Linked DNA regions of Homo sapiens. The protein of the gene in region 2 purifies or fractionates together with the protein of the main gene of each other region. This does not show direct contact. Each region holds a gene or a part of one and is shown on either strand. Other genes may lie near its edges.

Region 1 (3,500 bases), on a different chromosome or scaffold from region 2:
TAAAAGAATTCTAGAAGGAAGAAGTCCAATACATATATATAAACTCTATTATGACACGTTTACTTTGTAAGTATTGGCTTTTCCATTTTTATTATTTTAGTGGTTGTGTTATGGTTCTCATTTATAGAAGCTGTTGTTGCCAGATACTAATTGAGGTAGGATTCATAAAGCACTTTTTGTAATCCTTCTTCTTTGTGGATAGCTTGACAATTTGTTCAAAAAAATAAACTCATAGTGGTGGTATGCAACTTTGTTAAAAATAAAACTGTAAATCAAAAAGTGAATTTCATTGTATGTAAATTTAAAAGTATGTTAGAAAACATCAATATGGCAGGAGAACAAGTTTGACTTTTTTCCGCAACTAGTGTCTACTACCACCTTTCTGGATACTTTAAAAAGTTGTCAGCTTTTAAAATTGTTGGTATAAAACATTTGGGAAGTTTTTAATTGGTATTTGTGCTTCAAAATTTAAGACTTTTCTAAGTATTCAGAAATATTCAAAGGAAGAGATGAATTTTGGAAAACTTGTTTGCCTTTATGTGCTTAATCTGACTTTAAGTTGAAATTTGAACAGTGAATAATAATTTTGTTTACATAAAGTTTTTTGACTTCTATATTAGGAAAAAAACTAGCTTGAGGCCAAGTGCAGTGGCTCTTGCCTGTATAATCAGCACTTTGGGAGGCTGAGTCCCGACTGCTTGAGCTCAGGAGTTTGAGACCAGCCTGGGCAACATGCTGAAACATCATCTATACAAAAAAAGTACAAAAATTAACTGGGAATGGTAGCATGTACCTGTAGTACCTTACAGCTACTCATGAGGCTGAGGTGGGAGGATCACCTGAGCCTGGGGAGGTCAAAGCTACAGTGAGCTGTGTTAGGGTCACTGCATTCCAGCCTGGGCAACAGAGTGATACTCCCTCAAAAAAAACAACAAAACAGACTGGGCACACTGGCTCACGCCTGTAATCCCAGCACTTTAGGAGGCTGAGGCAGGTGAATCATTTGAGGTGAGGAGTTCAAGACCAGCCCGGCCAACATAATGAAACCCTGTCTCTACTAAAAACACAAAAATTAGCCAGGTGGTAGTGGTGCATGCCTGTAATCCGAGCTACACGGGAGGCTGACGCAAGAGAATTGCTTGAGCCTAGGAGGCAGAGGTTGCTGGTGGGGAGGTTGCCAGTGAGCCAAGATGGCGCCACTGCACTTCAGTCTGGGTGACAGCCCGAGACCCTGTCTTAAAAAAAAAAAAAGGGCCAGGTGCGGTGGCTCACGCCTGTAATCCCAACACTTAGGGAGGCCAAGGAGGGCGGATTACCTGAGGTCAGGAGTTTGAGACCAGCCTGACCAACATGGTGAAACCCTGTCTCTACTAAAAATACAAAAATTAGCCGGGTGTGGTGGCGGGCACCTGTAATCCCAGCTACTCAGGAGGCTGAGGCAGGAGAATCGCTTGAACCCAGGAGGCAGAGGTTGCAGTGAGCCGAGATGGTGCCATTGCACTCCAGCCTGGGTAACAAGAGCGAGACTCCCTCTCAAAAGAAAAAAAAACAACCAGAAACCCCGAAAAAGAGGTGGAGGGGATGTATCCTTTTTTGTTCATGTCAAAGGAGTAAGCTGGGTTGATTACTTCAGATTTTGTGTTAGCCATACTTTAAGATTTTGTAAGTTATTTTGCTGTGAAGAGTACCTTTTATTTATGATATTAAAGGCTTTAACTTAAATTATCCTTCAAAACTTTGGAGGCAACAAAGATGTCTACCATGGTTTCTTGGATCAGGTATTAGTCACTTGTGGAAGTGGTCACATAGTTTTGTCTTAGAGAAAGTTTTGATTATAAAGAGAAGGCATAGGCAGGGCATGGTGGCTCACAACTATAATCCCAGAACTTTGGGAGGCCGAGGCGGGTGGATCACCTGAGGTCAGGAGTTCGAGATCAGCCTGGCCAACATGGCGAAACCCTGTCTCTACTAAAAATACAAAAATTAGCCTGGCATGGTTGTAGGCGCGTGTAATCCCAGCTACTCGGGGAGACTAAGGCAGGAGAATCACTTGAACCCAGGAGGCGGAGGTTGCAGTGAGTTGTGATTACACCACTGCACTCCAGCATGGGCAACAGTGCAAGACTCCATCTCTAAAAAAAAAAGAGAGAAGGCATAAAACTAAAGGAAGAAAGGAAGAAGAGAAAAGGAAATATTTAGTTTTTTTTTTTTTTTTGTGATGGAGTTTCACTCTTGTGCGATCATGGCTCACGGCAACCTCTGGCCTCACGGGTTCAAGCGATTCTCCTGCCTCTGCCTCCTGAGTAGCTGGGATTACAGGCATGCGCCACCACGCCTGGCTAATTTTGTATTTTTAGTAGAGACGGGGTTTCTCCATGTGGGCCAGGCTGGTCTCGAACTCCCGACCTCATCTGCCCACCTCGGCGGCCTCCCAAAGTGCTGGGATTACAGGCGTAAACCACCGCGCTTGGCCAGAAATATGTAGATTTTAAAGTGAATGAAAATAAGAATCTTTAAATTATCAACCAAAATTTGTAAGTTAAGTCACTAAAAATGAAATTAGAGGATCTATTGTAATTTTGATGCAATTTTTTTGAAGATACTTTCCAAATAGTATTTTTTCCCCTCTGGTTCATTTTAAGAGCTGTATGTTGATCATGACCTTGGGATGACTGTTTATTATTTCTAAGTTTTCCTGTGTGTGACATTTTCCTTTTCACTTTTGATCACATTTGTTTGCCTGAAAATTCTTCTTGGCCCCTGTCGTTGTATCCTCAATTTTCTTCATAGTTTCTCTTTGCCTTTGGTGCCCTTTTTCTCCTCCTCATCCCACCCAATCACTTGGTATATTCTTTGTTTTCTTCTTATTTAATATGCTTGGATAGTATTCTCTGGAAGTATTAACATTGCAAGGATGAGTAAATTAGGTTTCTTTTATTGAGTGTTGCCCTTACCACTTTCCTGTTTCTATTGCCTTCTCAAAAATCTGGCCTTTGTGTAGAATTCTTAGGCAAAAGATGATAGTAATGGAAGTGAAAAGTGTGGAGCAGGACTGGGGTTGGCAGATCATCAAAAGTTTGACTTCATTGTTCTGAAAGTTTGTGTGTCTTACAGCTGTGTGGTAATCTCTTTCAGAAGACAAACTAAGTTGAGTCTTTATAGCCATTCTCTTTCCAATGCTTTTCAGAGGTTATATGATTTGTCATATCACAAAGGATTTTTCAGAAAAATCAGCTAATTACACCTTTTTTTGCAATATGACACTAAATTTGAGACAGAATAATCTTTGCTTTAGTTCTCCCTATGTTATGTATTATAAATACATGTATCTTACAATCTACTATAAAACCATAAACTGGCTGGGCGTGGTGGCTCACACCTGTAATCCCAGCACTCTGGGAGGCTGAGGTGGGCGGATCACCCGAGGTCAGGAGGTTGAGACCAGCCTGGGCAACATGGTGAAACCCTGTCTCCAGCAAAAAATACAAAAGTTAGCTGGG
Region 2 (4,020 bases):
CTCCCAGGTTCAAGCGATTGTCTTCCCTCAGCCTCCCCAGTAGCCTCCCCTAGGATTACAGGCACGTGCCACCATGCACAGATAAATTTTTTTGTGTGTGTATTTTTAGTAGAGACGGGGTTTCAGAATGTTGGACCAGCTGGTCTTGAACTCCTGACCTCGTGATCTACCCAACTCAGCCTCCCAAAGTGCTGGGATTACAGGCGTGAGCCACGGTGCCCAGCTTCGCTATGCCATTTCATGCAAGGGGCTTGAGCATCTGCAGATTTTGGTATCTGAATGGGGATCCTGGAACCAATCACCCAGGAATAGTGAAGGACCACAGTATATAATTTTTATTTGTCAATCTTAAAAATAAAGCATAAAAAGTTTACAACAACAAGATAAAAAATAAGAAGTGTCTTTATAGTGTGAGGATAAGTTTAGATTTATTTTTTCCTACGTGTAACCCTATGGTCCTGTGTTATTTGTTGAGAAAATATTCTATTCCACCTTAAACTACATGGCAGCCTTTGTCAACTATAAAGGGACTGTGTATCCACAGATGTATTTTAGACACAGTTTTCTGCCCAGTGGTTCTCTGTATCCCCTCTCATGAGGATGCTGCATTTCATATAAACTTATAGAACCCCTTAAAATTTGGTAACCTGAGTTCTCTGATTTGTTATTATAGGTTATTTAGTTTGCTTTTTTTTTTCTTTCTTGAGACAGACTCTTCCTCTGTCACCCAAGCTGGAGTTCAGTGGCTTGAGCTCAGCTCACTGCAGCCTCCGCCTCCCAGGTTCAAGCAATTCTCGTGCCTCAGGTTTAGTACTAGAAACTCATCAGGAAAATTAGAATGGCTTTTTGTCACAATTACTCTGATAATGTTAATAATACCTCTTAGATATTTTGCACATTACACATGAAGAAAAGTTTGAATCTCAGATAAAAACAAAAATACATCAAAAGTCTTTAATGTAAGCACAGAATTCAATCACCTCATGTGTGAGAGGTTGGATCTGAGACGTCTTTTGAGTCTGGTCATAGTGAAGGATGCAAGGTGGCAATTGTAGTCACAACAATTTCCAGGAAGCCATGTTCCGCTCTTGAGCGAGCACCCACTGGGCCTCATGCAAGGTAGAAAGAGCCTGCGTACGTCACCCTCCCATGATGTGGTCAACATGTAAACTGCATGGGCAGGGCGCCAAATAACATCCTGTGCGCTGCTGAGCTGAGCTGGGGCGCGGCCTCCTGTCTGCACCGGCAGCACCATGTCGCTCACGGTCGTCAGCATGGCGTGCGTTGGTGAGTCCTGGAAGGGAATAGAGGGAGGGAGAGTGGGGATGGAGATCTCGGCCTAGAGGTAAAGATATGGGCCTGGAGTGGAGATATGGGCCTGGAGTGGAGATATGGGCCTGGGTGTGGAGATATGGGCCTGGAGGTGTAAATATGGGCCTGGAGTGGAGATATGGGCCTGGAGGGGAGATATGGGCCTGGGTGTGGAGATATGGGCCTGGAGTGGAGATACGGGCCTGGAGTGGAGATATGGGCCTGGAGTGGAGATATGGGCCTGCAGGTGGAGATCTGGGCCTGGAGTGGAGATATGGGCCTGGAGTGGAGATATGGGTCTGATGTGGAGATATGGGCCTGGAGTGGAGATATGGGCCTGGAGTGGAGATATGGGCCTAGAGGGGAGATCTGGGCCTGGAGTGGAGATATGGGTCTGATGTGGAGATATGGGCCTGGAGTGGAGATATGGGCCTGGAGTGGAGATAGGGGCCTGGAGTGGAGATATGGGCCTGGAGTGGAGATCTGGGCCAGGAAGTGTTGATCTGGGCCTGGAGCCTGGGTCTCTCCACAGCTGAGAGCCCTGTTCTTGGCAGCAGGTAGCAGGGAGGCTAAGTTTACCTTCAGCCCAGCAAGGGCCTGGCTGCCAAGACACACAGTGCAGTGGGGGCAGCAGGGTGCCCTGGTTTGCCTGCAGTTGGATCGTCTATCATGATCTTTCTTTCCAGGGTTCTTCTTGCTGCAGGGGGCCTGGCCACTCATGGGTGAGTCCGTCCCCAAACCTTAGGGTGTCATCTCCCCACATAAGAGGATTTTTCTGAAACAGGAGGGAAGTCCTGTCGGGGAGTCTCTCATAAACTAGGAAGAGGGGACCCTTGGATACTCGGCCCACATTTCTGACCTCGCCCTCCCTGGCCTTTCTTTCCCTTTCCTGAGTCAAGCTCTGTGAAGACTGGGGTGAGACTGGGGTGCTCCAAGCTGGGGTGTGCAGGGAGGAAGTGGTGTCAGCAGCAGAGAAAGAGAGGGAAGCAGTGCTAGGAACAGCAGGTCCTCTGAGGACAAAGGTATAACTGACACCCTCCAGCGTTTCCGTGACGGTAGGGGCTGCAGTGTGGCTGCGGTCTTTCTACCAGAAGAGGGGGGAAACCACAGCCATGGCCCTGACATTCCAAATCCTCTGAGGGGGCTCAGTTCATGAATTGGCTGATATTCCATTCACATAGGACATGCCCTCCATGCCGTGTCTACTTTGTGTTGTTTTATGTGAGTAATTTTGCAGTATTAAAATCTAGTAAGAGTCACTTATTCAGCACTTGCTCAAAGTTCTCAGCTGACACTTGTTGTAGGGAGACGCCATGTCTATGTGGGGTGGGTCCTTCCTGTAGCCCTGGGCACCCAGGTGTGGTAGGAGCCTTAGAAAGCGGAAATGGGAGAATCTTCTGAGCACAGGGAGGGAGGGGTGGCTCCACATCCTCCTCTCTAAGGCAGTGCCTCCTTCTCCCCCAGGTGGTCAGGACAAACCCTTCCTGTCTGCCCGGCCCAGCACTGTGGTGCCTCGAGGAGGACACGTGGCTCTTCAGTGTCACTATCGTCGTGGGTTTAACAATTTCATGCTGTACAAAGAAGACAGAAGCCACGTTCCCATCTTCCACGGCAGAATATTCCAGGAGAGCTTCATCATGGGCCCTGTGACCCCAGCACATGCAGGGACCTACAGATGTCGGGGTTCACGCCCACACTCCCTCACTGGGTGGTCGGCACCCAGCAACCCCCTGGTGATCATGGTCACAGGTCAGAGGCTTTCTGTCTGGGCTTCTCACTGTCCCACCTCCTGAATCCCAGAGCTTCTGGTGGGGGTGTCCATCAGGGTCCCATCACCCAGGCCCCAACTGTATTTGGGGTCAAGGGAGATTGAATACAGGGGAAATGGGTGCTGTGGTGGGAAGAATAACTGTCGCCAATGATGGCTACATTGTAAACCCTGGAGCCTGTGACTATTTATGTTATAGGGCAGGGGACTGAAGGGGAAGGTGGAGCTCAGGTTGTTGATGAGTTGACCTTGAGATGGGGAGACAGCCTGGACTGTCCTGCTGGGCTCAGTGTAATCACAAGGGTCCGCGTGAGAGGTGGAGGAAGAGGGGAGTGGGGATTAGAGCAGTGTAGTGGGAGGGAGACGCTATCAGCCACTGTGGGCTTTGAAGGTGGAGGAAGGCCACTAGTCACAGAATGCAGGTGGCCTCTAAGGGCTGGAGAAGTCAAGAGAACTGATTTGCTGAGTCTCCAGAGGGAACGCAGCCCTGCAGATGCCTTGATTTCAGCACAGGGAGAACTGGATCCAATTTCTGTCCCCAGAAGTGGAAGGGGTCAGTGTGTTCTCTCCTGCTGCCATGTTTGTGATAATTTTCTGCAGCAGCAACAGGAAACCGACACAGGAACCCAGGTCAAGGACAAGCTAGGAAACCAAACAAGGATAGCCAGGTGTGGTGGTGGGCACGAGTAATCCAACGACTGGGGAGGCTGAGGCAAGATAATCACTTGAACCGGGGAGGCAGAGGTTGCAGTGAGCCAAGACAACACCACTGCACTCCAGCCTGGGTGAAAAAGTGACTGTCTCAAAAATAAATTAATTAATCAATTAATTAAAGAAACCAAACAAGGAGAAGGTTGGCTACCGTGGGATCAGCAAGGGTGGGATGCTGATGCCACCACCAGGCTCCATCCACATAGGAAGGGGTTGATGCTCCTGGAACC
Region 3 (3,500 bases), on a different chromosome or scaffold from region 2:
CTTTCTCTCTAGATCATGGCTGTTAGAAGTCCCCTCCACAAAAACTTGCCAAGGAGTCATTTCCTGGTTTTTGCACTGCTGCCCTTCCCCGTCTCCTTAATCTCTTTTTAAGTAGGCAATTAACTTGTGCGTGCATGTGTCAATTATGCCTATAAAGACTGCTATTCTCTACAGGGCAAAAACCTCTGCCCTCCTGCCTCTGGAGGGGCCAAACTCAACTACACTGTGCTCATCGGAGAGACCCCTTGTGCTGTCACCGTATCTGAGACCCAGCTTCTCTGCGAGCCTCCCAACCTCACCGGGCAGCACAAGGTCATGGTGAGTGAGCCCTGCGTCTGTAATGCCTCCTTCCCGCCTCGTGGTGCATGTGTGATCTGTCCTAAGGAAAGGCTCTCTTCTGTCTCGTTGCCTGACTCACCCCCTCCATATCTCCTCATCTCTGGGTCCTACATCAAATTGGGTATAAGCTGAGAACACAAGAAAAGAAAGGCAGATGCCGAGGCAGGAAATTGCTTTTTATCTAGAGCTGCACTGTGTGGTTGTGGTCTGTCATGTCCTTCCTCGCACTGTAAGGATCTGCTGGCATGCCCGGGCTCTACACCTGTGTGCATCCATGTGCGTCTGTATGTGTACAATGCACAGGTTCACGTGGGCGGGATGGTGTTCTCGCCTGGCTCGGTGAGTGTCATCTCAGACAGCTTGCTGACCCTGCCAGCCATCGTCAGCATCGCGGCCGGCGGCAGCCTCCTCCTCATCATCGTCATCATCGTCCTCATTGCCTACAAGCGCAAGTCTCGAGAAAATGACCTCACTCTCAAGCGGCTGCAAATGCAGATGGACAATCTGGAGTCCCGTGTGGCCTTGGAGTGCAAGGAAGGTTAGTGGAAGCACACCCTCATTTGCTGGGTCCCTCTTTCTCCACCTGCCTTATTGCCCTTCTCCCTGCAGACAACTCCTATCTTTACTCCCATCGCTGCCAGCCATGCCTCTGCATTCCACTTTCACCCCTGTTTTCCCAGAACTTCTTTTGCTTATAGGGTCAGAGATGTCCAATGAAGAATGCCCACTGCATGAGGACCCAGGTCCAATTGCATTGTTCTAGTCCCTTCTTTGCCCTGACCCATCCCACAATCTGGCAAACACTTTCTCCCTCTCAGGGCCTCAATGTCCCCACAGTCAGAGTCCCCAGGCTCCACAGCCCCAGACTCTAGATCCCCCATGGGAGTGTCCAGCTCTTGTTTTTCTGCACACTGTCTTCGCAGCACGTGGGAGCAGCGGCAGCAAAGGCAGACAAGCACCTGCCTCATCTCCCCCAGGGTTTGTTTTCCATCAGTGCTGCAGGCTGAGCGCTCTGAAGGCCGCCACTTGCTGGTGTCCTTGGCTGTGGACGTGTGTGGGAGTGCAGATTGTGTTTTCTCCCATGTCCCACGCAACCACAGCCTCGAGGTGACGAGTGTACCTGGCGTCCTCTCAGGCTGAGGACCTGGCAGGCTCTCTGGGTAAACAGCTCAATTAGGAATGAAAACATTTCTCCTTTTGCTGCAAATGTCAAGATCAGAAACAAGCCCTCTGCTGGATGACAGGGAAGAGCTGGGCTGGGAAATAGGACATGTGGAGCCAAGGTTCCTCCTGGCAACAGGGCTGGTGAGTTTGGCAGAGGAAGGAGCCAGGAAGACAGGTGTGCCACCACCAAGGTGAGGCTTCTGAAGCCCTTGCCTTCCCAAACTCGGCTCTCAGCTGAGCGTCTCATGACCAGACCTCCCCTAGGCTTTTGCATCTTGATTTATTACCTTGATTAGAAAAGGGCAGCACTTTGCCTGTTCTGGTCTTTGCTGGACCCCCTCAGCCATGGTCTCTCACCTGCCTCCAGCATCTCCGTGATCTTTACTAAACGGCCCAATCATGATACTTTTTTTTCCTTGTTGAAACTACACTTGTAATATGTAAAGAGAAAATTTGAAATTATAGATAAGTATAGAGGAGAAAATAACATAAAAATCACCCATTTCCCCACCACCTAAAAACAGCTGGGAGTAGCCCCGCCCTCTGGAGACACACTCCCGTAATCCTCAGAGTCTCTACAAAAGGTCCTCCCCTCGTCCTTTGCAAACTTCTTCTCCCTCTTTCTCCTCCCCCGACTGGGGCTTCCCCACGAGCCTCTCCGTCTGCTTATTCTCATAGCTTTTGCTGAGCTCCAGACGGATATCAATGAGTTGACCAGTGACCTGGACCGCTCAGGAATCCCTTACCTGGACTATCGTACCTACGCTATGCGAGTCCTGTTCCCGGGCATCGAGGACCACCCCGTCCTGCGGGAGCTGGAGGTAATGCCTGCCTCCTGGGCCCAGCCACCCAGCAGGGATGCAGGCCCAGGGTATCCTAGGAAATCCAGATGAGACTCAGCAGTACTGAGTAAGGTTAGCAGGGAAGAGGGGTCAGTAGTTTGTAACAGCATCTCAGCAACAGAGCTATCAGGAAGGTTACGGCTGAGGGGGCACCCAGGCTCCTTGGGATGGTTCCAGGGTAAAGCTCATTGTTTGTCATTTTTTAATTAATGACTGAACTAATTAACTAAGATCCTGCCTCATTCTAAAATGGATTTAAGATGGCTTAAAGAAAGACACAGGATTCTATGAGGTTTGTTTGTTCATTTGTTGGTTTGTTTTACTAAAGATAATAAATCAGGCAGAGGAGATTAAGGGGAGACTAGTAAACTGAAGAAGTTTGAGGGGGCATCTCCTATTCTATCCTTGGGAAAATCAGGCAGCCTCCCCTCTGAGAGCTCCGCATGGAGCCCAGCCTCCCCGGCCCAGTGCAAGGTCAGAGCAGACTGTCGACCTTAGAGCCAGCTGTTCCTACATCATCACGGGTGAGTGGAATGGGGTGGGGTTGGTTATAGGCCTCAAACATAGGGTCCTACAGCTAGTGTCATCGCCAGCAGGCCCTCAGTGAGACCCTCAGGTAGGAGGCCCGATGCCTGTCCTCTGAGGGCGTCGCCTCCACCACACCCCACCCCAGGTACAAGGAAACGGGCAGCAGCACGTGGAGAAGGCCCTGAAGCTCTTTGCCCAGCTCATCAACAACAAGGTGTTCCTGCTGACCTTCATCCGCACCCTGGAGCTGCAGCGCAGTTTCTCCATGCGCGACCGGGGCAACGTGGCTTCGCTCATCATGACCGGCCTGCAGGGCCGCCTGGAATATGCCACTGATGTCCTCAAGCAGCTGCTCTCTGACCTCATCGATAAGAACCTGGAGAACAAGAACCACCCCAAGCTGCTACTCCGGAGGTCTGGCCCGCAGCAGTGGGTGGAGAGGGTGGCAGGAGTCTGAACCTGGACAGAGCACCTCATTATAGCAGGCCCCACAAGCAGCATGAGAAGGCCCACTCCCCAGAAGGGGCACCCATTCAGAGCAGCCTGTGTCCTCACGTCTCTGCAGGGCAGAATCTGACTTTCCCTCAGCCCAGGGAGACTACAGAGTCTGAAGTCACCCAGGTGTGA
Region 4 (3,500 bases), on a different chromosome or scaffold from region 2:
AGGGTTATGGTGAGGATTAAATGAAACAATACCCATCGGCTGTGCGTGGTGGCTCACGCCTGTAATCCCAGCATTTTGGGAGGCTGAGGTGAGAGGATGGCTTGAGCCCAGGAGTTCGAGGCCAGCCTGGGCAACATAGTGAGGCCCCATCTCCAGAAAAAAATTCTAAAAATTAGCTGTGTTTGGTGGTGCATGCCTGTATTCCCAGCTACACAGAAGGCTGAGGCGGGAGGATTGCTTGAACCCAGGAGATGGAGGCTGCCGTGAGCTATGATGGCCCTAGTGCACTTCAGCCTGGGTGACAGAGAAAGACCCTGTCTCAAAAAAAGAGAAAAGAATGCCCCATAAAATGCCATACCATTAGCTTTTCATAATGATATGAAGCAGGGGCTGAGCTCCGGTGACATGAAACAAGTCACAGTTTGCAGTGTCAAAATGACACTGTGTCCCCCGAGAACCTGTGTTTTCCAGGCAGCACCAGGAGAAAAACATCTCATAGCAGGGATTTAGAAGGTGAGCAGTCCTGCCAGTACCACTCGTATGCTCTGTCCAGTCGGGGACAGGGGGACAGAGGAGTCCGTTTCTTTTTTGATATGGCATCAGGCCACCAAGGCGAGGCCTTTCGAGGAGAAGAGCCTCAGCTTTCGAGGCAACTCAGCAGCCTTTCCTGAGCCCCTCCAGAGAGTGGGTAGGGTATGAGAAAAACCACAACAATCCTGGTTCTCAGATAATGCCTGCTTCCTCCAGCAGCGGGGGTGCTATTGTCTTGATTTCCACAGATACTCTCGGGCCATGTGGGGTGTGGCACAGCAAAGAGGATCCTCCCACTCATAAAAAGCTAAGTGTGAGATGGCAGCTTTGGGGCTCCAACCTCAGTTCGCTGCTGCCTGAACAGAAACCGGAGTTCACAGGAAGCAGAACCTCCAGCCCCACACCCTGGCCTTCCCCAGGACACAGAGAGGAATGTCCTCACCAGTGGGTAGCCCAAGCCTCAGCCCTCTTAGGATCAGAGAATTAACTGTGGGACACCAGGCTTAGGTCCCCCAATCCCACCCGCTTATGTGAAAACTCACCCACCCTCCCAAGTCAATGTCCCTGGAAAGGTAGGGCAGCAGCACAGAAGACCAGTCTCAGAAACAGGAAGGCGGGGTCAAGGTCAAGCCAGGCTGTGCCCTGGCCTGGTCTTAAGCAATCTCAGGCCAAGGAATGAAGGATGGTACTATTTTTAAACCTCATGTGACCTGCACGCAAACCCAGCCAGGTAAGGATGGAGCCCTGTTGTCAGGGGCTCTTTGATCATTCCAGGTGAGTAGGAAGTAGTTATGACAATGCCCCTCTCAACAATTCTTTGCCTTTTTTTTTTTTTTTTTGAGACGGAGTCTCGCTCTGTCGCCCAGGCTGGAGTGCAGTGGCGCGATCTCAGCTCACTGCAAGCTCCGCCTCCCGAGTTCACGTCATTCTCCTGCCTCAGCCTCCCGAGTAGCTGGGACTACAGGCACCCACCACCACGCCCGGCTAATTTTTTGTATTTTTAGTAGAGATGGGGTTTCACCTTGTTAGCCAGGATGGTCTCGATCTCCTGACCTCGTGATCCGCCCGCCTCAGCTTCCCAAAGTGCTGGGATTACATGCATGAGCCACTGTGCCCAGCCGATTCTTTGCCTTTTAATAACATGACTTTCCACAAGAAAAAGAAAAACGTGTGTGTGTGTGTGTATATCTATCTATCTATCTACACACACACATATACACACATGCACTGAATACTGACTATGTGCCGATGGCCCCACGGGGGAGGGTATTGTCATGCCCATTTCACCAGAGGAAGAAAATGAGACCAAAAGCTTCGGCCACTTGGTTAGGATCACCAGATACTAATGGGGAGCTGAGACTGAAACCCAGGTTGGCAAGTCTTTGTCAAGACCCCATCTTGGGAGGACAAGGGTCCAGGGAAGATACCTCTCTCTCCCCCAGGCTTGAGTTTCACTCTGAAGTCACAGAAGCATGGCAGAGATAAGCAAGCTAAGCCCTGGGTGAGGAAGTGACTTTCTCAAAGTAACATAGCAAATCAACGACCAAGTCAAGATGGTGGGAGTCCCCAACAAGCTGCCTCCTACACATCTTCAGGTCTCGACTTAAATGTCACTTCTTCAGGGAAGCCCTCCTTGACCACATAACGCATGGCCAGAGGCAGGCACATGGTGGGTGAGCTTACCTTCACTGTCGGTGAGCACTTCCATGCGCCCGCTGAACATGGCCTTCAGCATGGTGTCCTGCTTGGTCAGCGTCTGCATGGTGGTATAGTAGAGGGCTCCACCCACATTCAGCTTCACGTATTTGGAGCTGGGGCTCGTGCCCTTGAAGGAAGTGGTGCGGGTAGCAGCCGCTGGCACCGCTGAGCTCACCACACTTTCTCCTGACATCTCTTCCTGCCAGTGGAGAGGATACAGGGTCATGACATCAGGCCTGGTTGACTGCTTTCAGCCTGTGGATTCAATCTGGCCTCCAGATGTGTTTTGCTTGGGCCACGCATACACAGCATTTAAAAGTTTGCTTCCAATGTGGACAACTAAGGAGAGCTCACAGAAAAATCTGGACTTCTGGCTTCTCCTAAAATCAGAGGCCAACTGGGCTAGCAGGGGAACAACTGGTCAGAGCTGGGGTATTGGATGACCCCTAGAGAGGGCCATGCATCCCCTAGTTTGTCCCAAAACCCACCCAAAAAGCCTCATACACTGACCCTGCCTGTCGACCCTGCAGGCACAAGGGTGCCCCTAACTCTTGTGTTATAAGCACTTCCTTTCTGCCTAGCACCTGTATACATGAACACCCTGGCTGCACCCTAAAACAGCCTAAAGCACTGCCCAGGTCTCTTTACATTTCCTTATTGCCATGTACCACTCAATAGCTAGCTAAGTGTCATTTTTCAGCTGCATCACAGATGAAATAAGCTTTATGAAGTTGAATGGGATTCCAGCTGGCACTCCTATCACTTCCTGTAGGGAGAAGGTGTTTCTGAGGACTAAACAACAGACATGGAAACTTTTGGAACCAAGTTATTGCAAAATTAGACCTCCTAGACTAGTGCTGCCCAAAAGAGCAAGATCCCACTACCATCTCCCTGATAGCATGGCTGACTCTCTGTACATCTCAAAGAAATGGATACAGTGGCTGATTTACGCAGGCCTGGAAAGTGAGATTGGTATCCGGCACATGTGTACTCAGAGCAAACATGTCTGAAATGAACAGGTAAAACTGTAGAGGTGGAGATGTGCAAGGGTGGGCAGAATCTTTGCTGAATCTGGGGTAGCCCCCACGGCTGGCCCTACCATTCCCATTGAACATCAACAGTTTTTCACAGCACATCACCCTCAGACAAGGCCACTCTGTGCCCTTGCGACAAGACAAAAACAGGACCATTCAGTCATCATGTCCGGACACAGACAAAAACATAAACATTATCCAAAATACAAAAATGACCAAAGATCCCCTATCCTGGCT
Region 5 (3,500 bases), on a different chromosome or scaffold from region 2:
AACCTGGCATAAATCAAGCCAAACCCTTAAGAAATTAGAATGTGAAAAGAAAATAATTTAAAATAGAAAATACATGCTGCTTTTCCTCACTCCCAAACTTAAAACTTGACTGGTCCTACATATTCTACTTGGTATATTGAATTTTTGCAGCTAGCAGATTTATCGTATCTGAGGCCATAGTGAATAGAAGAGCTGCAAAAGAGCTTTAGAGACTGCAAAACCAGCTCACTAATAAATGAGGAACTTTATTCTAATTTACTACCAGGGGCTGAAGTAGCAGCCAAAGAAGGAGACAAATTCTAACTTCATGATCTCTAGTTAGGTGTCTATTTTCCTGCATTTGCTAAAGGTAAAAATCGCTACTTATGGGGCTTTTGTCATACTTCTTAACCAAACTTCCCTAACTTCTGAGGATAAAAACCATAAGGGCAATCTTATTCTTCCAAAGCAGTTCCCTGGTGCCACTTTCAGAAACAGAGTATTGAACTATGGGTCTGACCCAGTGTGGCACTGAGTGTGTGTGTGTTTGTGTGTTTGTGTGTGTGTGTACACTGAATAAGCCAAAACGTGTGCCATATTCTAGGTTTCTGCTTTACTTAACTGGCAAAATTTGGTGCTGTAAGGGAGGCAGCCACAAAACCAGTGATAGCATTTGTTAGTATCATCTTAGTTCTCTTCCCTCCCCTAGGTAGTTTATAAAGGGTGATTTCTGAAACCCTTCACAAAAGAAAAGCTCAAGGGTTTACATTCAACTGTGACAGCACTATGAATTCATTAAGAAGCATGTTTCAGGTTGCACTGTAATTTCCCTATGTAATACAAACCCATGGAATCTGACATAAGCTGATTGCTCATGCTGGTTGTTTTATTTACATTTCTGAATGGAAAGGATTTCAATACTCATAAAATATCTAACTGGCTTATTTTTCATCTGTTCTCCCAGAGAAGCTATTATAAGATAGGCATAGAGACAGAAGTCTCAACTTGTATAACTGGTTAAGCAACCAGGGAAATGTTATTGCTCAAAATGCAATTTTAAAAAATTCAATATGGAACTTGAGGCCAAAAAAACAGAAGGTTACTCTCAATGCCATCCAAAAGATAAAAGTTAAAAAAAAAAAAAAAAAAAAAGGTAACTATGCTCATTATTTTCAACCAAGTTCTATGGAGGTGGTACCTTCACAGGAGCTCAGTGGAACTGGGGTTTACTTACATCTTTTTTCTGGGAACCTAATGTTAGCAGACACAGTTGCTAGTTTGAACAGGAATGCAGATGAATGGATGAAAGTGGGCTCCCTACCACCCAGAAATATGAATGTGCCTCCTTACCAATATGCTACAAATCAGACCTCTGAATTAGAAGATGCCATCATGCAACTAACTTACTATCTGGAGATGTGTATTTTGTTAACCTAGGCAAAGAATAACAATTTCTGCTTATTCCAGTAGGTGTGACAAGCTCAGAGAAGTGAGCGACAAGCTAGAGAAGTAATAATTACCAATAAAGTAAATTCCAAAGCCGAATCCCCAGTTTTCTGCCTCCAAGTTGTTGTTCAAATAGTTTATCTTCCTTTCTTCTACTGCAACACTAGTTTAATCAGTACATTCTACAACTCTCTAGTATTATTATAATATTTGCATGAGTAGTTTAGAATTTAGCCTTGGGCCTGCTCTTCTACCATTTTACCATATTTACTGATTACATTTTACCATATTTTACCATATTTACTGATTACATGCCTAATTTGTATAAACTCAAGGAGAGGTTCTGTGCCTTTTTGTTTGTTTTTTGAGATGGATTCTCGCTCTGTCACTAGGGCTGGAGTGCAGTGGCGTGATCTTGGCTCACTGCAACCTTCGCCTCCCAGGTTCAAGCAATTCTCCTGCCTCAGCCTCCTGAGTAGCTGGGATTACAGGCGCCTGCCACCACATCAGGCTAATTTTTGTGTTTTTAGTAGAGACAAGGTTTCACCATGTTGGCCAGGCTGGTCTCAAACTCCTGACCTCAGATGATCTACCCACCTCGGCCTCCCAAAGTGTTGGGATTACAGGAGTGAGCCACCGCACCCAGCCTCTGTGCCTATTTTAAAACATATATCCCAAAGTCATATCCCCAGTGATCCAGCTAGTCTGTTACTTTAATGAGACAGCTCAATAAAGATAGGAAATATTTTTTCAGTTACTTAAAGAGAAAATAATACTGGTGGTTCTCCCTGTAAAGAGGTAGAATTGCCAAAAAATGCAGAATTGATCAGCAAAACCCAGCTATAAAGAAAGGGCAAAAGGAACTTTATTTTAGTGCCTTATCCCAATATCCTTTTATTTAGTTTTTTGATTAACATGATGTGTGCCTATTTTCAGAATCAGTGACTGCCAGCTGCAGCTCTTGACATTATCAAGTGAGCTCTGGAAAATTCTGGGTAGCTCTTTCCTATTCTCTCACATGCCCAAAGAACTAAGTAATTTTGGTCCTAACTCTTACTATTCTATTCTTCTTCACATGAAATCACATTGTTTCATACTGAAAACCAGGATGGCTATTAGTTCTTATTAATCTGTCATTATTAGGAATGAGAGGATATAAAAGAGGTATATAAAATGTATGAGTGTAGAGCTTTTGTCTAAGGCAATTACTCTGTGAATCTGAGGTGAGACATTTCTTAAATTTTGAATTGTGGAGCTCTCCATTTTTTGATAAATTATATTCATATAAACATTATAATAAATAACACTGCTTACAAAAAGATGAATTCCAGCTGCTGAGTATAAAGATGAAAGTACTCCACATCACATATTTGGAAAAGAATAAAGATATCTCTTTCTATATGTTCTTGCTTGACCTAACCGAATAAATTCTTCTGAAAGGAAGCATAATCTATTAGTCTAGACTGACCTTTTGGGTCACTATATCTTACGGGAGCCGTGTGAAAATAACTCACCATTCCCTTCCAGTCAAATAAATGAATATTCAAGGATGAACTCATCTATTGTGGCAATAGCTTCCACCTTATACTAATACATCTTCATGCCCATCTCAAACCCCCTACCACTAGACTATGAGTTACTTATGAACAGGGATTATATTTTATACTTCACAGGTACCCAATGAATTTGAAATGCAAAGACCTGTTATATGTTATAGGACAATCATTACCATATTTTAGCATGTTATAGGACAATTAAAACCATGTTTTAATTTGCTGAGGCTCTTTACAAATCTAAACTTTGAAAACAAATCAAGACAGGCCCTATTGGAGTCCTTCCATTCAATAAGCCAACATTCAAAGAAGACTCTTTTCAGGTTATCCAGGACTCTCTGAACTGCATGTTCTACTGCAGTTTTTGTTTTTTGTTTTTTAAAGGTGGTATTACAAGAGCTAAAATTCACCAAGGGCAAATTAGTAAGAAAAGTCTTCACAGCTAGGGCTTAGCCAAATTAGAATCCCTGGGCTCGCAATAAGGGCTAAACCCCTAAAGGGATCAGAGTCTAATAAATAAAA
Region 6 (3,500 bases), on a different chromosome or scaffold from region 2:
TCTTTTCTCTGAACTTGTGGTGCAAGACCTCACCTCTGGGCCACACTTCCTCTCCCTATACCCCTTTGCCTGCCTTACCATTCCTAGCCCTTCAGGTCTTGGCTTCAATACCCCTTCCTCCAGGAAGCACTCCTTGACTCCTTGTCTGAGTCATGTGACTACTCTGGGCTCCTTTGGCCCCTGGCTTCCCCTAGCCCAGAACTTCTAAGTGCCTTTCCCCTGCCAGAATGGGCACTGCCTGGAAGGTGGTAAGCATCTGGCTCCAGGGATGCCAGCCAGGCAGGGTAGGGAATAGAGCAAGATGGGATTGGGGTAGATAGTGAGGGAGAAGCTGGGGCACATCCTTCCCTCTGGTTCAGTGAAGCCTCTCCCTGCCTTGGCCCCTTTTCTTTCATGTTGAGAGGGTGGACAAAGGCAGGCCCAGGAGGCAATGGTCCCACATGCTGGGTCCCATGGTTCTGGCTCCATCACAGACCATCCCAGTCTCCTTGCCCAAACTCTGTGGCCCAGAGATGGCTCTGGATACCTCAGTCATCCCCACTTGGCTACTCCTTATGCCATGGCAAAACAAGGCCCTAGAATAGCCTGACCCCCTCACTCTTCTTGAGGACAGGACCAGAGATATGACTTCTATCACACACAGAAAGGTGACTGGGCAGACAGGCCTGCAGCCTAAGTTCTGCTAGAAGCACCACAGGATGGCCAGGAGAGAACTTCAGGCTTGGATAGGGCACTCAGAGGAGTGTCCCATAGCCTGAGGTCACTCCACAGCCTGAGACTGCCACCAATCTCCCCCGCTGCAAGCACAGTGACTTCTTTCTGGTCTGGCATCACTGAGCACCAGAGTGAACTCCAGCTGGCTGTGTGATAGCCGCAAACCAAGGCCTAGCCCAGATCCTGGACATCATAGGCACCTTGGTCCAGAATCCAGGATTGCCCGGAGTAGAGACAGAGCCCACACCAGGTGCTCATCATCTGAGGAACATGGGATGGGGTATGGATGTGGTCCAGAGAAAACTTCTGCTTCAGTCTCTGTCTTGGGTATCTGAGAGCCCCAGTGAGGACATTCAGTGCAGGTGAACCTGCATGCTGGCCCCTCTGCCCTGGGCTCACTCTGAGCCAGGCCAGGCCAGGCAGTGTCTGTACATACCTGGATCTCAGGATCGATGTGGATCCTGTGTGCCTGAGCCTTGCTGTCATCAGGGGCACTGGGCCAGCTCCTACCCTCAGGCCTGTGGCAGAAATTGTGATGGTCAGATATGTCTCCTACCACGCCCACCATGCCTGGGAGCCAGGATCAAGAGGGGCTGGGCTCTGGGCTGTGCCCTGCAGGTAGAAGAACACCACTCCAGTGCTTTCCCCTGTACCACAATGGTGACTGTTGTGGCAATGAGCCACAACTCTAGCTGCCATCCTCCTGGGGTAGGGCTATATGCTTCTGTCCCCATCGGCTGCCCAATCCCTCTCTAGTCTGGTTCCTGGAGAGGCTGCAGGAGAAGCCCTGTGTCTTCCCTAATCTTCCACCCTCTTCGTGGCCTACAGAAGCTCAGCTCAAAGAGGCCCAGCTTATAGCACTGCAAGCCAGGCCTCACACATTGACCAGCTAGAAGCCTATCCACGCATCCTCTGGGCATCTACAGCCTCTGGTGGGGTGTGGGGTCAGGCGTCCGTCGGCTCTGGGGTAGGTGGAATGGAGGCTCTGAGGGGTGTGTCTTTCCTCCTGCTGCTGCTGCCGGCAGAGTCATCACTGAGTCTGCCCAGCCCAGATGGGAAACAGGCCATTAGGAAATTCCTGCTTCGCCATAGAAACCAAAAGCCAAACACCACTCAGGAGGGAGAAAAACATCATAAACCTGCCATAAGCAGGGCAGGCAGGCCGAGAGGCTACGTGCCTAAGGCCCAGCCCTGTCACTCAGTAGCCCTGTGAGAAGGCAGGCCAGGAAGGGGCATGGACCCTGGACTGGCAGGTGGGTATGAGGTGAGGCTGGTTAGACCAAAGGGGAATAATGCCCTCCAACTCACCCCACGAAGCCTCCTGAGGCTTCTCAAGGTCTCATTACTGACCTAGCAGCTTGCCCCTGCCTCTTCTGCCCCCTTCAGTTGAGGGTTTTAATAATCTATCTATGCCTATGGTCCATACTCACTCTGCACTTCCTCGCCTCTGCCCATTCCTTAGTCCCTTGGAGGCTACCTCTCTACTCCAGGCCTTTGGTATTAGAGCTCTGCTGCCCCAGGGCAACACCAGCCCCATAGTCCCTGTCTCTAGCCCCCTCAACCAGGCTCCCAAGTGGGTACCCTAACTCACAGCTCTAACTGTGGCCTCTATCTACTCAGAACTCCTCTGGGATAAAGCTGGGACATCTTGTGTGGCTATTTGGCCTTCAACTTCCCTGAAGTTCTGCCCAGAAGAGCAGTACAAGCCTGACGTCTAAGGTCGAAGGGCACAAAGTACCCAGAGCCATTAATGTGGCCCAATGCATCAGATCAGAATGAAGGGCTTAATCATGTGTCAACCCCCATCCCAGGCTGGGCTCTTTAAACAAAATGACAGGCAAAGGGTAGGCTGTGCAAAGGTACCTTGGGCCACATGTGATGGACAACAGGGACTCTATCAGTGGCCTCAGTGTTGGAGTTGATGTCAGAAAGGTCCTGGACCTATAGAACATGCCCAGGAAGTGTGATTTTGCTTGGATTGTTGGATGCCTGGCTTTGGGCTCAAAGCAAAAGAAGCCCAGTGGGGAAGCTGGGCCTTTGATACACTTTTCATTCTGTGGGGGAGTTGGTGGGGGGATTAGAGCTCTCTGTACACAAGAGGGCAGATAGGGAAGCTGGTCTGGGGTAGAACCCTGGGAGTGAGAGCACAGGGTAGCTCACTCCAGCCAGCTCAACAGGCTGATTTACTGCAGAGCCCTTGCTGTGTGGGTGTGTGTGGTGGGGGCGGGGAGGAGTGTCGTTGGGGGCCAGGCATAGGTCCTGGCATAGCAGGCAAGATAGGGAGCAGAGTCAGAAAGCTTGCAGGTGGGCAAGTGTCCAGGAGAAGAAATGTTGGCTCAGAAAGTCAAGGTGGCCCTCATGTCTTGATCCCCCAGAGTCTGCATGTGTGAGGGGGCTGCAGGGCAGGACTCAGGTTTTCACTCTGACTGAGCAGGCCTGGTACATCATCACTCAATGTCCAGAGCGCAAGATGGTCCATATTTTTGGTTGAGGAAGTTATGGGCTCAAGAGATTAAATCACTTTCTGGAGCACAGCATAGTTATCTCTCCCTCTCTCTCTTTTATGGGTAAAATTATGAGCATAATTCTCAACCCAGCTCTGTAATAGTAGAGAATGTGCTCTCATCTGCTCCATGGCCAGTGACATTTTGGGGCTGAAATGCTCAGAGTGGAACAGGTCAGTGGACCTCTGGCTCCATCCATGCCTGGTTTGGAACAAAGGACTGGGGAAGGAAGGAAGGAAGGAAGGAAAGAAGGAGGGGGACCTCCACCCCACCACCCTCCGC
Region 7 (4,296 bases), on a different chromosome or scaffold from region 2:
CCTGCTAGCTCCCTGCCTTCTCCCTCCGGACAGCCTATTAAACACATCATCTGGCCACCTCACCTGGAAGCCCAGATAGACATCTCTCTCCCCTGCCCAGCCCCTACCCTACTCCCCCCGCTATCTGCTCCCAAATGAGCTCCAAGGTTTAAGCAGAAGAGGACACAGGCAGTCCCTGCAGGGACACACCTGCCCAGAGTGTTCCTGCCGAGAGGCCACTGGTAGGACAAAGCTTATAGGGATTAGGGGAGGCAGTAAGACTGAGGTACTATGAAGACAACCACTTGATCCAGAGTTTTCTAAACTTCCCAAATCACCTGGGTGAGCCTATTAAGTATGCAGAGTTCAAGAGTTGGACTGATCCTGATCCAAGTGAGCCACAATGACCTAATTAATCCCTCTGCCTTCTCTACATCACTGTCTAATAAAATAGAAGAGTGTCCTGTTCTCTGGGCTGACAATCAATGGGTGCTTTCACAGGTCCAAAAGATGCAGTTCTGGGTTTCTTTAAGCACAATCTTTCCCTTCCCTTCCTGCTTCTTTTGGGAACTGTCTTAAAGGGCACATAAGAAAAGTTCTTTTTAGGGAAAGACACTATACTCACCAGGGGCTGTGATGCCCAATACGCCCAGGTTCCCCAGCTGCTTCCAAAATTCCTGCCAACAGAATGGAGCAGAGTGGAATAAGTGTTGAGGGGAAGGCAGCCAGTCACATGTGGCTGGAACAATGAGACCCAAACACTTCAGAGAGAGGGGCTGCATTCTTAGAGAGGCTTCATTTACCAGAAAACTGTGTGAGCTCTTCCAGGCAGCAGTGCAGCTCAGCCCCACTCCCTGACTGCCCCCGACTGCCCGGACCTCCCAACTCACTCGCAGGTTCTTGAACTCATTGCTGCGATCGATCTCCTGGGCCTTGGGGGCCAGGTGCTCCTGAAGGAACTTAGCCATGGTCTGACGAAGCTAATAGGAGAGAGGTAAACAGATGCCACTGCAGACAGCATCTCCACTACCCAGACACATTCAAGAGAAAAGGCCACAAGTAACTTCCCCAAACAGCATCAGACTGAAACTGAGAGGCCTCAGTAGTTTATGCCTCCTCAGAGATGATCTTCACCCCTCTTTCTTAAGGTCTTCAGCCTAGACAGCTTGATGGTAATTTTTAAAACGTCACACTTTACATAAAAATCATTCCATTGGTTTCCACTGTACTTAGAATAAAACACAAGCTTCTCACCCAGGCCTACTAGGCCCTGCAGGAGCTGACCCCAGCTGACTCTCCTAGCTTCCCCAGCACCTTCCCACCTCCCACCCTCTGTGCTCCAGCTGCATTCCAGGCAGCTGCCAGATCTCAATAGTTGTCAGGCTCTTTTAAGCCCCCGAACCTTTGGCTAAAAGGGTCTGATTACCCAAAGAGATTAGAAACGCCTCTTGGCGGCTGGGCATGGTGGCTCATGCCTGTAATCCCAGCACTTTGGGAGGCCGAGGCAGGAGGATCACCTGAGGTTGGGAGTTTGAGACCAGCCTGACCAACATGGAGAAACTCCGTCTCTACTAAAAACACAAAATTAGCCGGGCGTGGTGGTGCATGCCTGTAATCCCAGCTACCTGGGAGGCTGAGGCAGGAGAATCACTTGAACCCGGGAGGCGGACGTTGTGGTGAGCGGAGATCGCGCCATTACACTCCAGCCTGGGCAACAAGAGTGAAACTCCGTCTCAAAAAAAAAAAAAAAAGAAAAAAGAAAAGAAACTCCTCTTGCCAGGAAAGCTTGAGAATAGGGATTGAACCCTTTCCACTTGAGGTGGTTCACGGAAGCTCTGAGCGCTCGCTGGCTATAAACATAAACTACGGAGTTGCTGGGAGGCTCATACCTCCGCCAACTCCATCCAGCCTCCAAGTGAAACCTCAGGAAGGACTCTGGTTCTGCTCCATTTGTAAATACTACTTCGTCTTCTTTTCTATTTTTTATGAGATGGGGGTCTGGCTATGTTGCTTAGGCTGATCTCAAACCCCTGAGCTCAAACAATCCTCCCACCTCGGCCTCCCAAAGTGCTAGGATTACAGGTGTGAGCCACGGCGCCTGGCCTCCAACTACTTCTTTCAAGTACTTGTTCAACTTTTGTGTTTTGACCCAATGGGCTGAAGAGCGACAGGAGAGCTCACTGTGGCTTTTTAAAACCCCCAAACTGTTTATACAAAAAAGACTCCCTGGTGATTACGATGACCACCCAGGTGTGAGAAGCATACCTCAGCCTGTTCAGGTGTAAGTGAACTACATACAGATTGAGGGCCCTTGTGCCACAAGCGGTAGGTAGCCTGGCCAATCCTCCACCAAAACACCATCAGTCTCTCAGGAGCTCTCCCAGCCTCGACTCCTCCTCTCTACTTCCAGCAGTACTGTCCCACGGTCTCAAATCTTCACTCCACAGACGTGAGGCCGAGGTCAGAGGACTGGACCCGAGGTCGGAGGCCCCGCGTCCCGCCCCCGCGCTGGCGCTCCCAACGGCCCACGGGCAAAAGCCAAGGCTGGGTGGGCGCTGGGCCGATGGGGACCAGGCAGGAAGGAGGCCTTGGGGACCAGGCAGGAAGGAGGCCTTGGGGCCAGGAAGGGGGTCAGTCTCCTCACCTGCCTCTGCTCCTCGCTTAGCCCATTGATTGCATCGTCCACGGGCAAAAGCGAGTGGGCCCGCTGGGAAACGAAGCCGGCAAGCGGCGGCCGCAGCCTCCAGCTCGCCACACGCCACCCCAGCAGCCGAGTCGCAGTCGCCATCTCTGCCATGCACGAAGAGCCAGCGCTGAAACTGAGCCAGCTCTTAGCTCCACCAATCCAGGCTTCGCCGCCCACCAAACCGGCTAGGGGGTGGGCTGCAGCAGCCAATCACCCTAGGCGGCCCGCCGAAGGCGTTGCTGCCCTTGGACCGCACCCGAGCCAATCAACCGTGATCGCCTGCCAGCTTCCAGCCAGTGCAACGGCCGCAGGCCGAGTGGCCCTGCCCCGAACGCTGCAAATGCTGGCGTGCTCCCTAGGATGAGTGTTTTTAGCGGGGTAGAAGAGCAAGTGTTTTTTTCTTTTTATCTCCCTGCGTTGAAATAGCAGCCCCTAACTGCGGAAATCTCTCTGTGGGAAAGCAGAGTGTGGAAACAGCAATCAGAAAACTGCCCACGTACCCAGTAAATTGGTCAAGCATCTCTGGAATAATTAAGATCGGAAAAGTAGTGCTTGCTCTAACGTGCACACTGATCATAACAGAGTACATCTTGCTTTATTATATAACAAGGTTTGTAGATTTAGATTCATGTTTTATGGGAAAGGGGTTATTAAGGAGTAGCTGCCTTCTAGATTGGAGATGCGCCTCGATTTACAGTGGGGTTACTTCTCGATAAACCCATCATAAATGGAAAATATTGTAAGTCAAAAATGCACTTTGAAAATACACTTAGGCCGGGCATGATGGCTCACACCTGTAATCCCAGCACTTTGGGAGGCCGAGGCGGGTGAGTCACCTGAGGCGGAGAGTTTTAGACCAGCCTGGCCAACATGGAGAAATCCTGTCTCTACTACAAATACAAAAATTAGCTGGGCGTGGTGGTGCATGCCTGTAATCCCAGCTACTCAGGAGGTTGAGGCAGGAGAATCGCTTGAACCCGGGAGGTGGAGGTTGCGGTGAGCTGAGATCACGCCATTGCACTCCAGCCTGGGCAACAAGAGTGACACTCCGTCTCAAAACAGAAAACAAAAAAACACCTAACCTACCAAACATCATAGCTTAGACTAGTGGACCTTAAACGTACTTGGAACACTTATAATAGCTTATAACGGCACAATCATGTAACACAAAGCATATTTTATAAGACAGTGTTAGATATCATTTATTGAATATTGTACAGTTTCTATTCAATGTCTATCACTTTCACACCATCATAAAGTTGAAAAATCTTAAGTTGAACTATTGTAAGTTGGGGACCATTTGTATTTAATATGTGTTAAATATTAAATAGTACATATTTACGTATTATACTATATATTAAATAAGATGTATTAAATAGGCTGGGCATGGTTGCTCATGCCTGTAATCCTAGGACTTTGGGAGCTTAGGTGGGAAGATCGCTCGAGGCCAGGAGTCCAAGACCATCCTGTGCAACATAGGGAGACCCTGTCTCCACAAAAAATTTGAGAAAACAAACAACAACAAAAGATGTATTAAATAGTAAATAGTATGTATTTAATACACCAGAATAATAGCAGTCAGGACTTAGAAACACGGGTTCGGGACACAGGGAAAGGAAGAGTGGTGAGGG

Evidence for each region.
Region 1: the proteins of KIR3DL2 (region 2) and TRIM13 purify together in Homo sapiens (affinity purification with mass spectrometry; 2 studies listed by BioGRID and IntAct, with this or other methods). This does not show direct contact.
Region 3: the proteins of KIR3DL2 (region 2) and PLXNA2 purify together in Homo sapiens (affinity purification with mass spectrometry; 2 studies listed by BioGRID and IntAct, with this or other methods). This does not show direct contact.
Region 4: the proteins of KIR3DL2 (region 2) and KCTD10 purify together in Homo sapiens (affinity purification with mass spectrometry; 2 studies listed by BioGRID and IntAct, with this or other methods). This does not show direct contact.
Region 5: the proteins of KIR3DL2 (region 2) and ST7L purify together in Homo sapiens (affinity purification with mass spectrometry; 2 studies listed by BioGRID and IntAct, with this or other methods). This does not show direct contact.
Region 6: the proteins of KIR3DL2 (region 2) and PDLIM4 purify together in Homo sapiens (affinity purification with mass spectrometry; 2 studies listed by BioGRID and IntAct, with this or other methods). This does not show direct contact.
Region 7: the proteins of KIR3DL2 (region 2) and IVD purify together in Homo sapiens (affinity purification with mass spectrometry; 2 studies listed by BioGRID and IntAct, with this or other methods). This does not show direct contact.

Annotation. Positions count from the first base shown.
Region 1 is NC_000013.11:50,003,542-50,007,041, forward strand, and holds part of TRIM13 (E3 ubiquitin-protein ligase TRIM13), read left to right. Parts: intron 1-3,500. UniProt on the Homo sapiens protein: Endoplasmic reticulum (ER) membrane anchored E3 ligase involved in the retrotranslocation and turnover of membrane and secretory proteins from the ER through a set of processes named ER-associated degradation (ERAD).
Region 2 is NC_000019.10:54,849,223-54,853,242, forward strand, and holds the start of KIR3DL2 (killer cell immunoglobulin-like receptor 3DL2 isoform 1 precursor), read left to right. Parts: upstream 1-1,220; 5' UTR 1,221-1,253; coding exon 1,254-1,287; intron 1,288-1,997; coding exon 1,998-2,033; intron 2,034-2,775; coding exon 2,776-3,060; intron 3,061-4,020. UniProt on the Homo sapiens protein: Receptor on natural killer (NK) cells and T cells for MHC class I molecules. Upon binding of peptide-free HLA-F open conformer, negatively regulates NK and T cell effector functions. Acts as a receptor on astrocytes for HLA-F.
Region 3 is NC_000001.11:208,041,885-208,045,384, reverse strand, and holds part of PLXNA2 (plexin-A2 precursor), read left to right. Parts: intron 1-174; coding exon 175-318; intron 319-642; coding exon 643-877; intron 878-2,181; coding exon 2,182-2,324; intron 2,325-3,018; coding exon 3,019-3,287; intron 3,288-3,500. UniProt on the Homo sapiens protein: Coreceptor for SEMA3A and SEMA6A. Necessary for signaling by SEMA6A and class 3 semaphorins and subsequent remodeling of the cytoskeleton. Plays a role in axon guidance, invasive growth and cell migration.
Region 4 is NC_000012.12:109,467,301-109,470,800, forward strand, and holds part of KCTD10 (BTB/POZ domain-containing adapter for CUL3-mediated RhoA degradation protein 3), read right to left. Parts: intron 2,429-3,500; coding exon 2,215-2,428; intron 1-2,214. UniProt on the Homo sapiens protein: Substrate-specific adapter of a BCR (BTB-CUL3-RBX1) E3 ubiquitin-protein ligase complex. The BCR(BACURD3) E3 ubiquitin ligase complex mediates the ubiquitination of target proteins, leading to their degradation by the proteasome.
Region 5 is NC_000001.11:112,528,642-112,532,141, forward strand, and holds part of ST7L (suppressor of tumorigenicity 7 protein-like), read right to left. Parts: intron 1,525-3,500; exon of another isoform or gene 1-1,524.
Region 6 is NC_000005.10:132,264,196-132,267,695, reverse strand, and holds part of PDLIM4 (PDZ and LIM domain protein 4), read right to left. Parts: intron 1,233-3,500; coding exon 1,151-1,232; intron 1-1,150.
Region 7 is NC_000015.10:40,404,299-40,408,594, reverse strand, and holds the start of IVD (isovaleryl-CoA dehydrogenase, mitochondrial isoform 1 precursor), read right to left. Parts: upstream 2,801-4,296; 5' UTR 2,777-2,800; coding exon of another isoform or gene 2,768-2,776; coding exon 2,624-2,767; exon of another isoform or gene 2,341-2,623; coding exon of another isoform or gene 2,245-2,340; intron 960-2,244; coding exon 870-959; coding exon of another isoform or gene 783-869; intron 657-782; coding exon 605-656; intron 1-604.